Homo sapiens: one gene and its partners. The protein of the gene in region 2 interacts with the protein of the main gene of each other region in a pairwise test. Each region holds a gene or a part of one and is shown on either strand. Other genes may lie near its edges.

The links.
Region 1: the proteins of SUV39H1 (region 2) and TRIM41 interact in binary tests that used the Homo sapiens proteins (3 or more experiments, as listed by UniProt).
Region 3: the proteins of SUV39H1 (region 2) and PADI6 interact in binary tests that used the Homo sapiens proteins (3 or more experiments, as listed by UniProt).

Annotation. Positions count from the first base shown.
Region 1 is NC_000005.10:181,226,281-181,229,934, forward strand, and holds part of TRIM41 (E3 ubiquitin-protein ligase TRIM41), read left to right. Parts: intron 1-3,654.
Region 2 is NC_000023.11:48,706,648-48,709,584, forward strand, and holds the end of SUV39H1 (histone-lysine N-methyltransferase SUV39H1), read left to right. Parts: intron 1-789; coding exon 790-923; 3' UTR 924-2,369; downstream 2,370-2,937. UniProt on the Homo sapiens protein: Histone methyltransferase that specifically trimethylates 'Lys-9' of histone H3 using monomethylated H3 'Lys-9' as substrate. Also weakly methylates histone H1 (in vitro).
Region 3 is NC_000001.11:17,396,150-17,399,305, forward strand, and holds part of PADI6 (inactive protein-arginine deiminase type-6), read left to right. Parts: intron 1-921; coding exon 922-992; intron 993-2,536; coding exon 2,537-2,698; intron 2,699-3,156. UniProt on the Homo sapiens protein: Structural constituent of cytoplasmic lattices, which plays a key role in early embryonic development. Cytoplasmic lattices consist in fibrous structures found in the cytoplasm of oocytes and preimplantation embryos.

The DNA of each region.
Region 1 (3,654 bases), on a different chromosome or scaffold from region 2:
TTTTAGTAGAGATGGGGTTTCACCGTGTTGGCCAGGCTGTTCTGAAATTCCTGACCTCAGGTGATCCGCCTGTTTTGGCCTCCCAAAGTGCTGGGATTACAGACATGAGCCACTGTGCCTGGCTACACAAAGATTGTTAAACCTGCCTGATTGTTGGAATTACTAGGGGAGGTTTTCAAAAATACAGTGGATCCTACCACTAGAGTTTCTGAATCAGTGAGTAGGAGAATATCTTTAAAAAGCCCAGTCTAGCATGGGGATCACTGCATTGGTAACATTGCCTAGCTGTTAGTCCCTGCATTTTTAGCAGAGATTGTGAGGTCCTGTTGTCCTTTCCATCTCCTCAGTTCCTAGTTAACCATACCCATCATATCATGTGTGGTCACTTTGTGAACAGGAACCCAGGCCAAACTATCCATGGGCATTCCACCCTTTCTCTTTCACCTCCCCCTGTAGGACTGCTCCAAGGAGCTTCTGAAACTGGATTTTAATTTGCATTAGCCAAATTTGTTCAATGCCAGCTGCCTGAAATCCCGTATTAGGTCCTGAAGTAGGTGAGGAATTAAAAAAAGTCATAATCTCTTTTCTTTTCCCCCCTTTTTTTTTTTTTGAGACAGAATTTCACTCTTGTTGCCCAGGCTGGAGTGCAATGGCACAATCTTGGCTCACCGCAACCTCTGCCTCGGATTCAAGCGATTCTCCTGCCTCAGCCTCCCGAGTAGCTGGGATTACAGGCATGTGCCACCACACCTGGCTAATTTTTTGTATTTTTAGTAGAGACGGGATTTCTCCATGTTGGTCAGACTGATCTCGAACGCCTGACCTCAGGTGATCCGCCCAACTTGGCCTCCCAAAGTGCTAGGATTGCAGGCGTGAACCACTGCGCCTGGCCATACTCTCTTTTCTTGATCTGTTTACTGCGCTCTGCAGTTTGGGAGGCCATATACACATATTTAATCTGACATTAAGTGATGAGTAAATGTAAATACATAGTTTTATTGTATAGGACTAATTTGAGTGATTCCCTTTCTGACTTAATAGGCTATTTTACAAGTGGGTCATTTATTTTTTTATTTTTATTTTTTTTGAGATGGAGTCTCGCTCTGTCGCCCAGGCTGGAGTCCAGTGGCGTGTTCTCGGCTCACTGCAAGCTCCGCATCCCAGGTTCACGCCATTCTCCTGCCTCAGCCTCCCAGGTAGCTGGGACTACAGGCGACTGCCACCACGCCTGGCTAATTTTTTTGTATTTTTAGTAGAGACAGGATTTCACCATGTTAGCCAGGATGGTATCGATCTCCTGACCTTCTGATTTGCCCGTCTCGGCCTCCCAAAGTGCTGGGATTACAGGCGTGAGCACCGCGCCCAGCCACAAGTGGGTCATTTATTCTTTTCAGATATGTACATGCAGTAACCAGTAGCTTGGCAAAATGTTTTGTAAAAATTTTTTTTGTTGAATAGGTAATAACACACAAATGATATGTAAATATAGTTCCTGAACAGTTACATGTTTGTTTTGTTTTTTTTGAGACAGGGTCTCACTCTGGCCAGGCTAGAATGCAGTAGCATGATCATAGCTCACTGCAGCCTTGACCTTCTGGGTTCAGGTGATCCTGAGTAGTAGCTGGGACTGGAGGTGTGTGCCATCATGCCCAGCTAATTTTTTTTTTTTTTTTTTCGTGGAGACAGGGTCTTGCTGTGTTGCTCAGGCTGGTCTTGAACCACTGGCCTCAAGCAATCTTCCCATTTTGGCCCCTCAAAGTGCTGGGATTACTGTGTCTGCCCGACAGTTAAATGTTTTGAAAGTTGGCCGGGCATGGTGGCGGGTGCCTGTAGTCCCAGCTACTCGGGAGGCTGAGGCAGGAGAATGGCGTGAACCCGGGGGCGGTGGAGCTTGCAGTGAGCTGAGATCACGCCACTGCACTCCAGCCTGGACAACAGAGCGAGACTCTGTCTCAAAAAAAAAAAGAAAAAATGTTTTGAGAATTTCTCTTATAACTGGCTGGCTGTGGTGGCTCACGCCTGTAATCCCAGCACTTTGGGAGGCTGAGGCAGGTGGATCACTTGAAGTCAGGAGTTCAAGACCAGCCTGGCCAACATGGTGAAATTCCGTCTCTACTAAAAATACAAAATTAGCCAGCATGATGGCATGTGCCTGTAATCCCAGCTACTCGGGAGGCTGGGGCAAGAGAATCGCTTGAACCTGGGAGGCAGAGGTTGCAGTGAGCCAAGATTGTGCTACTGCATTCCAGCCTGGGCAACACAGCGAGACTCCCATCTCAAAAAAAAAAAAAAAAAAAAAAAGGAAATATATCTTAAATAGAACTCTGTTTGAATTTGTGCTTATTAATTTTTGTTTTTGTCAGCAATTTAGGGTCCCGGCACGGTGGCTCACACCTGTAGTCCCAGCACTTTGGGAGGCAGAGGTGGGCAGATCACTTGAGGGCAGGAGTTAAGACCAGCCTGGCCAACATGGTGAAACCCTGTCTCTACTAAAAATACAAAAATTAGCCAGGTGTGGTGGTGGGCACCTTTAATCTCAGCTACTCGGGAGGCTGAGGCAGGAGAATTGCTTGAACCCAGGAGTTGGATGTTGCAGCGAGCCGAGATGGCACTGCTGCACTCCATTCTAGGCGACAGAGCAAGACTCTGTCTCAAAAAAAAAAAAAAAAAAAAAAAAACAGTAAATGGTAAATTTAAGCGTTATAAATTCTGAATTAATGGAGAAATTATTGACTAGAAAAGTAGAAAGTTATATCAGAAGGCCAAATTTTGTGTAGTTCATGCTATTGTCACGAGTTGACTATAATTCCATTATTACTGTAATTTTGTCTACAACCACTTATCCTGTGCAGCAACTGCTGTTTGCACTCTGGCTTGGTAAACTCTTTAGTTCAGGGGTCATTATCAGGATGTCACTGGCAGCTTAAGGTATAGGGAACAAATATTAGATAACATTTACTGATCTTCTGCTACATGCCAGGCACTGCAGTAAGTGTGCTATCCATGAGGTCCATTCTCTTCTTATTTGAAGCTGAGGAAACTGAAAGCATGGCTTGCCTGAGGTCACTTCACTTCCCTCTGGTCCTGACTGGAGTCAGGCTGGAGCTCTCCTACCCTATATTCTCTCTCAAAGAAAAGGAGACAGGCTAGTAGAAGACATAGAAAAGGTAAGAGCAAATAGGTAGGGCTTATTCCACTCATTCTGGGCTAACAGCCCTTTAAAGAAAAGTATTTGGCTACAAATTGTAGAAACACAGAGCTCGTGTGCCTATTGGCTATAACAGTTACAACCTTTGGAAGAGGGGTTTCGGTGTCCTTTGCCATTTAGCAAGTAATTGAGCAGGAGAGAAAGCAGATGAGCAGAAAGAAGCAAAGAAGTTGAAATAAGTAGAGTGTGGGCAGGGACTCCGCAGTGTCCTGGAGGAGGCACACCTGTCATTGGTGCCCTGGGAACTCATGTATTAGATATTTCTTGGGATCACAGAGGATGTTGGGGGTGGGGAGGATCAGGGCCATTTTCAGGGAGCTGTTTTAAAGGAAGAATACCTTGGGCCAAGTGGAGAAAGGCACTCCCAGACAGAGGGAACAGCATGGAATTATACTCAGGAAATGACAAGTAATTTTATGTGGTCAAACGTGTTAAGAGTCTGTGTG
Region 2 (2,937 bases):
GGGGCAGGGGCGCACTGTGACTTGGGACACAAGGACCCCTCCCAAAGGCACACCAGTCACTCAGAGAACCAAGGAAAATTCTTTAGCGGGAGCTTTAAGATGCTCTTCCTGACTCCCAGTCCCCCATTCGGACTACTAGACCCCTGCCTACCCCTCGAGTCCCCTCATTCCCAGCCCCTGAACCCTAACCCTGAGGCATTCATACCAACTTCTCCCAAGATTCCTGGAGAGTTAAGAAACTCCTGACTCCAGTCTTGACTGAGTTTCCCTCATCCCCCAGCCCCTCCCCACTCCTAGCTCCCTTTGGCCTTCTTCATCCCAAGCCTCTGGACACCCTTGTGGCCTCCAGCCAGTCCCCTCCTTGATAAGCTAGCCACCTCTGAGACCCTCAAGGGCAGGTCTTTGGCAGGAGAGTTCAGATGTACCTCTGGATGCCCAGGTGGCCCTCTATTCCTGCCCCTGCCCCCCCCCACACACCTAAAACGACCCTCCTGGTTCCTTGACGGCTCCCTGCCTCCCCCAGCATTCTTCAACCCCTGGCCTGAACAACCTCCAGTGCTGAGCCCTGGCCCTAGCCCCAAACCACCAACCCTAAGATCTCCCAACTCAAATCCCAGAGTTGCTCCCAGCCCCAAAGATCCTTGGTCTCATGGTATAAAGGGTAGTGGGACCCTTCATCCAGGCCTTCTAACAAGTCCCCTGCCTCCTTCCCTACCTTCCTCCCTCCCTCCTTCTCCCCCTCCCTCCCTGCCTCCTTCCCTCCTCTCCTCCCTGGCTGTGACTCCACAGTGGACCCCGTGGACATGGAGAGCACCCGCATGGACTCCAACTTTGGCCTGGCTGGGCTCCCTGGCTCCCCTAAGAAGCGGGTCCGTATTGAATGCAAGTGTGGGACTGAGTCCTGCCGCAAATACCTCTTCTAGCCCTTAGAAGTCTGAGGCCAGACTGACTGAGGGGGCCTGAAGCTACATGCACCTCCCCCACTGCTGCCCTCCTGTCGAGAATGACTGCCAGGGCCTCGCCTGCCTCCACCTGCCCCCACCTGCTCCTACCTGCTCTACGTTCAGGGCTGTGGCCGTGGTGAGGACCGACTCCAGGAGTCCCCTTTCCCTGTCCCAGCCCCATCTGTGGGTTGCACTTACAAACCCCCACCCACCTTCAGAAATAGTTTTTCAACATCAAGACTCTCTGTCGTTGGGATTCATGGCCTATTAAGGAGGTCCAAGGGGTGAGTCCCAACCCAGCCCCAGAATATATTTGTTTTTGCACCTGCTTCTGCCTGGAGATTGAGGGGTCTGCTGCAGGCCTCCTCCCTGCTGCCCCAAAGGTATGGGGAAGCAACCCCAGAGCAGGCAGACATCAGAGGCCAGAGTGCCTAGCCCGACATGAAGCTGGTTCCCCAACCACAGAAACTTTGTACTAGTGAAAGAAAGGGGGTCCCTGGGCTACGGGCTGAGGCTGGTTTCTGCTCGTGCTTACAGTGCTGGGTAGTGTTGGCCCTAAGAGCTGTAGGGTCTCTTCTTCAGGGCTGCATATCTGAGAAGTGGATGCCCACATGCCACTGGAAGGGAAGTGGGTGTCCATGGGCCACTGAGCAGTGAGAGGAAGGCAGTGCAGAGCTGGCCAGCCCTGGAGGTAGGCTGGGACCAAGCTCTGCCTTCACAGTGCAGTGAAGGTACCTAGGGCTCTTGGGAGCTCTGCGGTTGCTAGGGGCCCTGACCTGGGGTGTCATGACCGCTGACACCACTCAGAGCTGGAACCAAGATCTAGATAGTCCGTAGATAGCACTTAGGACAAGAATGTGCATTGATGGGGTGGTGATGAGGTGCCAGGCACTGGGTAGAGCACCTGGTCCACGTGGATTGTCTCAGGGAAGCCTTGAAAACCACGGAGGTGGATGCCAGGAAAGGGCCCATGTGGCAGAAGGCAAAGTACAGGCCAAGAATTGGGGGTGGGGGAGATGGCTTCCCCACTATGGGATGACGAGGCGAGAGGGAAGCCCTTGCTGCCTGCCATTCCCAGACCCCAGCCCTTTGTGCTCACCCTGGTTCCACTGGTCTCAAAAGTCACCTGCCTACAAATGTACAAAAGGCGAAGGTTCTGATGGCTGCCTTGCTCCTTGCTCCCCCACCCCCTGTGAGGACTTCTCTAGGAAGTCCTTCCTGACTACCTGTGCCCAGAGTGCCCCTACATGAGACTGTATGCCCTGCTATCAGATGCCAGATCTATGTGTCTGTCTGTGTGTCCATCCCGCCGGCCCCCCAGACTAACCTCCAGGCATGGACTGAATCTGGTTCTCCTCTTGTACACCCCTCAACCCTATGCAGCCTGGAGTGGGCATCAATAAAATGAACTGTCGACTGAACAAACCAAGATGTGAGGTGCTTGTGTGGGTGGGGGTTGAGGGGATAGAGGCTGGGAGCTGGGTTTGCCCAGGAACATGTTCCTCAAACCTCAGCCATTTGACTCTAATCCTCACAATTTCAGCCCCCACAGCATATCACTTACACCATCATCTATATAACATCTTGACCTAAAATAAGTTTGTTTTATACTTAAACTTTAAAATGCACTTAAGGCTGGGTGTGGTGGCTCACATCTTTAATCCCAGCACTTTGGGAGGCCGAGGCAGGCAGATCGCTTGAGCTCAGGAATTCGAGACCAGCATGGGCAACATGGTGAAACCACGTCTCTGCTAAAAATACAAAAATTGGCCAGGTGTGGGGGCATGTGCCTGTACCTGTAGTCCCAGCTACTCAGGAGCCTGAGGTGGGAAGATTGCTTGAGCCTGGGAGGTGGAGGTTGCAGTGAGCTGAGATCTCACCACTGCACTCCAGCCTGTCTGTCTCCAGAAAAGAGCCAAACCCTGTCTCAAAACAATGCAATTAAATTGACTGGTTTAGACTGGCCGTAACTGGTTTTGACTGGACTTGACCG
Region 3 (3,156 bases), on a different chromosome or scaffold from region 2:
CTGAGGCGGGCAGATCACCTGAGGCCAAAAGTTCGAGGCCAGCCTGGCCAACATGACGAAAGCCCATCTCTACTAAAGATACGAAAATTAGCCGGGCATGGTGGTGCATGCCTGTAATCTCAGCTACTCGGGAGGCTGAGGCAGGGGAATCGCTTTAACCTGGGAGGTGGAGGTTGCGGTGAGCTAAGATCGTGCCATTGCACTCCAGCCTGGGCCACAGAGCAAGACTCCATCTCAAAAAATAATAAAGGCTGTAGGAACCCAGAAAGGGGCTGGGGGTATTAGGTTTTTCTAGACCCTCAATACTCAAAGTGTTATCTGAGGGCCAGCGCACCTGGGAGCTTGTTAAAAATGTAGAATTTCCACCCTGCTCCACACCTCCTGGATACTCAGCCTTTGGGGTTGGGGCCCGGGAACTCCTGGTCATAGAAGCACCATGGAAGGTGACATCTGCTGAGCATGAACCACATGACAAAGACTATCACCTCAGAGCTGGCAAATAAATTGGGCATCCCTGTCCCAAAGATCAGGCAATTGAGGAACAAAGGTAATGTAACCTGGAGAGGGTCACAGGCAGAAAGTGCCAGGTTGTATTGGCATAAGGGGAGTAGGGGCTGAAGTCATCCTAACAAGCTCTAGGCTGTGTCCCTCAGCCTGGCACAGGCTATTCCCCCTCATGCTGGGGACAGAGTGGCCAGTGGCAGTAAGTCCTGCCTGGGAGTTCTGGTGTAGACCCTGGTCAGTCCCCAGAAGGAAGATATTGGACCTGAGGGTGTGATCCCTGGAGATAGGCCAGTCCTCTCGCCATGGTCACTGGCCCAGGAATGCACCCAGGTGGCTGGGCCTGGCCCGAGTGTGCCCAGCTCTGGGCAGTGCTGCCATTCCCTGACCAGCAGGCCTGCTGCCCGCTTCTTCCTACAGGAAGGGAAGCCAAAACCATCGACCAACTTCTGGCTGATGAAAGCCTGAAGAAGCAGAATGAATACGTGGAGGTAGGACCAGTGTGAAGGGGGCCATCCCCAAGAAAGAGCTGGTGCCGCAGGTCTTGCAGGAAGGTTTCCACCCACCCCTCCTGAGGGGTGAAGTGTTGGGCGGCGGGGGGCAGCTGCCTGCCACCCTTTCTTCCAGGTCTTGATACAGGCCCAGGTCTGGGGCTAGAGCTGGCCATATGCCAATGTAGGGAGACTAGAGGAGTAAGGAGTTAGGTCTCTGGAGTCAAACACAGCACGATGTACCTTTATGCTTGGAAGAGGGCTGGAAGTGGGTAACACAGCTTTCTATGGTGTCAGATGGCTGAGGACCCAGGGTGGGACAGGGGCAGGGAGGAGCGCCATGGCATGTCGGGACCGTTGACAGATATTACTTGCAGATACTGTCAGAGGGAGTTTACTTTGCTATGACTATGCAGCTGGATCTTTTCCCCCAAGCTGGGAAAGCCCTGATTATCCAGGTTCCTAGCTGAGAGCCAATGATGGCCCAAGCATTTTGCGAGATACCTCACTACAAACCCTGCAGATAGCCCTATAAAACTACAAACCCTGCAGATAGCCCTATAAAGTAAAACACCTCTTACATATGAGGGTAGTGAGGCACACAGTAAAACCGCTAGCCCAGGACAATCATTTGGGAAAATGAGTCTGAACTCCCAAGTTCATGTGTTGCTCATTATACTCAAGCTGCCTGGGGTCCATTTCCCGGAAAATGACATAGCTCCGCAGCCTCCTTGAAGAAGCCGGCTCCTCACTTCCGAGAAGCTGAGTATCAGACTCAAATAGACGAGGGACTACTCAATGCTTTCTGGATGAAGTGGCCCATCACAGCAGTCCCGAGGATGGTGTTCAGGGTCACCAAACTTCAGAGATCTTAGAAGTGAATCATTGGCTATAAGAAGCAGAGTCTCCCCAACTTGTAGAAGGAGAAGCTTAGGCCCAGAGAAGGGTAATTTCTTGGCTGAGGTTGCATGGTCAGCAAAACTGCTTCTCTCACTGGGTCCTTAACATTCCCAGGAATGTTCCCAAGGAATGTTCTATGCCCCGCACAGTGCATGGGTACCCTGTTTTGCAAGAACAGCCCCCCTGGCATAGCAGGGTGGGTGCCAGCCAGGCATGGGGCTGAGACAGCATCTCCCAGCCCCTGGCGACAGCTTAGGTGTGTTGGGTATGTGTCTGAAGCCTATTTCAAGACCTAGGGAGACAGGTGTGTTGGGTTATGTCTGAAGCCTATTTCAAGACCTAGGGAGATGCCTGGGTATTGGGCTCAGCTGGTCTGGGTTGAGAAGTGCCAGACGCTGTCTAGCCATGGGATCCTGGACTAAAGACTAGGCCATTCCTGAGCCCCTACTTCCCCATGTGAAAAGGGAACTGCCTATTTCGTAAGGCTGGTATGAAGTGTGAGGCTCCTGGCACACAGCAAGTGATGGGGATGGTAGTGGTGTCAGGCCATCACCTACCTTCAGTATGGAAGGAAACTGGTTTTAATTCCTGATGAGCTCTCCTTGCTCCCCCGCCCCCCCCCCCACCCACCCACCCACCCACAGAAGTGCATTCACCTGAACCGTGACATCCTGAAGACGGAGCTGGGCCTGGTGGAACAGGACATCATCGAGATTCCCCAGCTGTTCTGCTTGGAGAAGCTGACTAACATCCCCTCTGACCAGCAGCCCAAGAGGTCCTTTGCGAGGCCATACTTCCCTGACCTGGTGAGGGGCGACTGCGCATCCCTGGGTGGGGGAGGGCCTGTCCAGGCAACACTGGCTGCCACCTCACTGTGCTGGACTGCAGATATGGTGGACAGCAGATAACGGTACCTATGAGGAAATGGGAGGGAGACCCCTTCTCCCCCATCTCGGTTAGGGACGCCCCACCCAGAGAGCAAGTGTACAGGGCCTGAAGGCTTGGAGGTTCCCCAGGCAGTTACTATGGGCCAGGCCCTGGGCCAGGTGCTTTAGGAGCCTCAGTGAGCTGCGCCCCCAGTCTAAAAGGGTGAACCTGTGAGGCCCACTTCGGATGGGGTGCTATGCAACCCAGAGTCGAGGTTGCCGCGCATCTGCCAGCAGCGAGGCCTTGAGCAACCTACCTCAGGGTGGGTCTTCCTGTCCGCTATCTCCAGGGTCCAGGGCAGCAGTGTCTGATACATAGAGGTACATCAGCCCTTAAA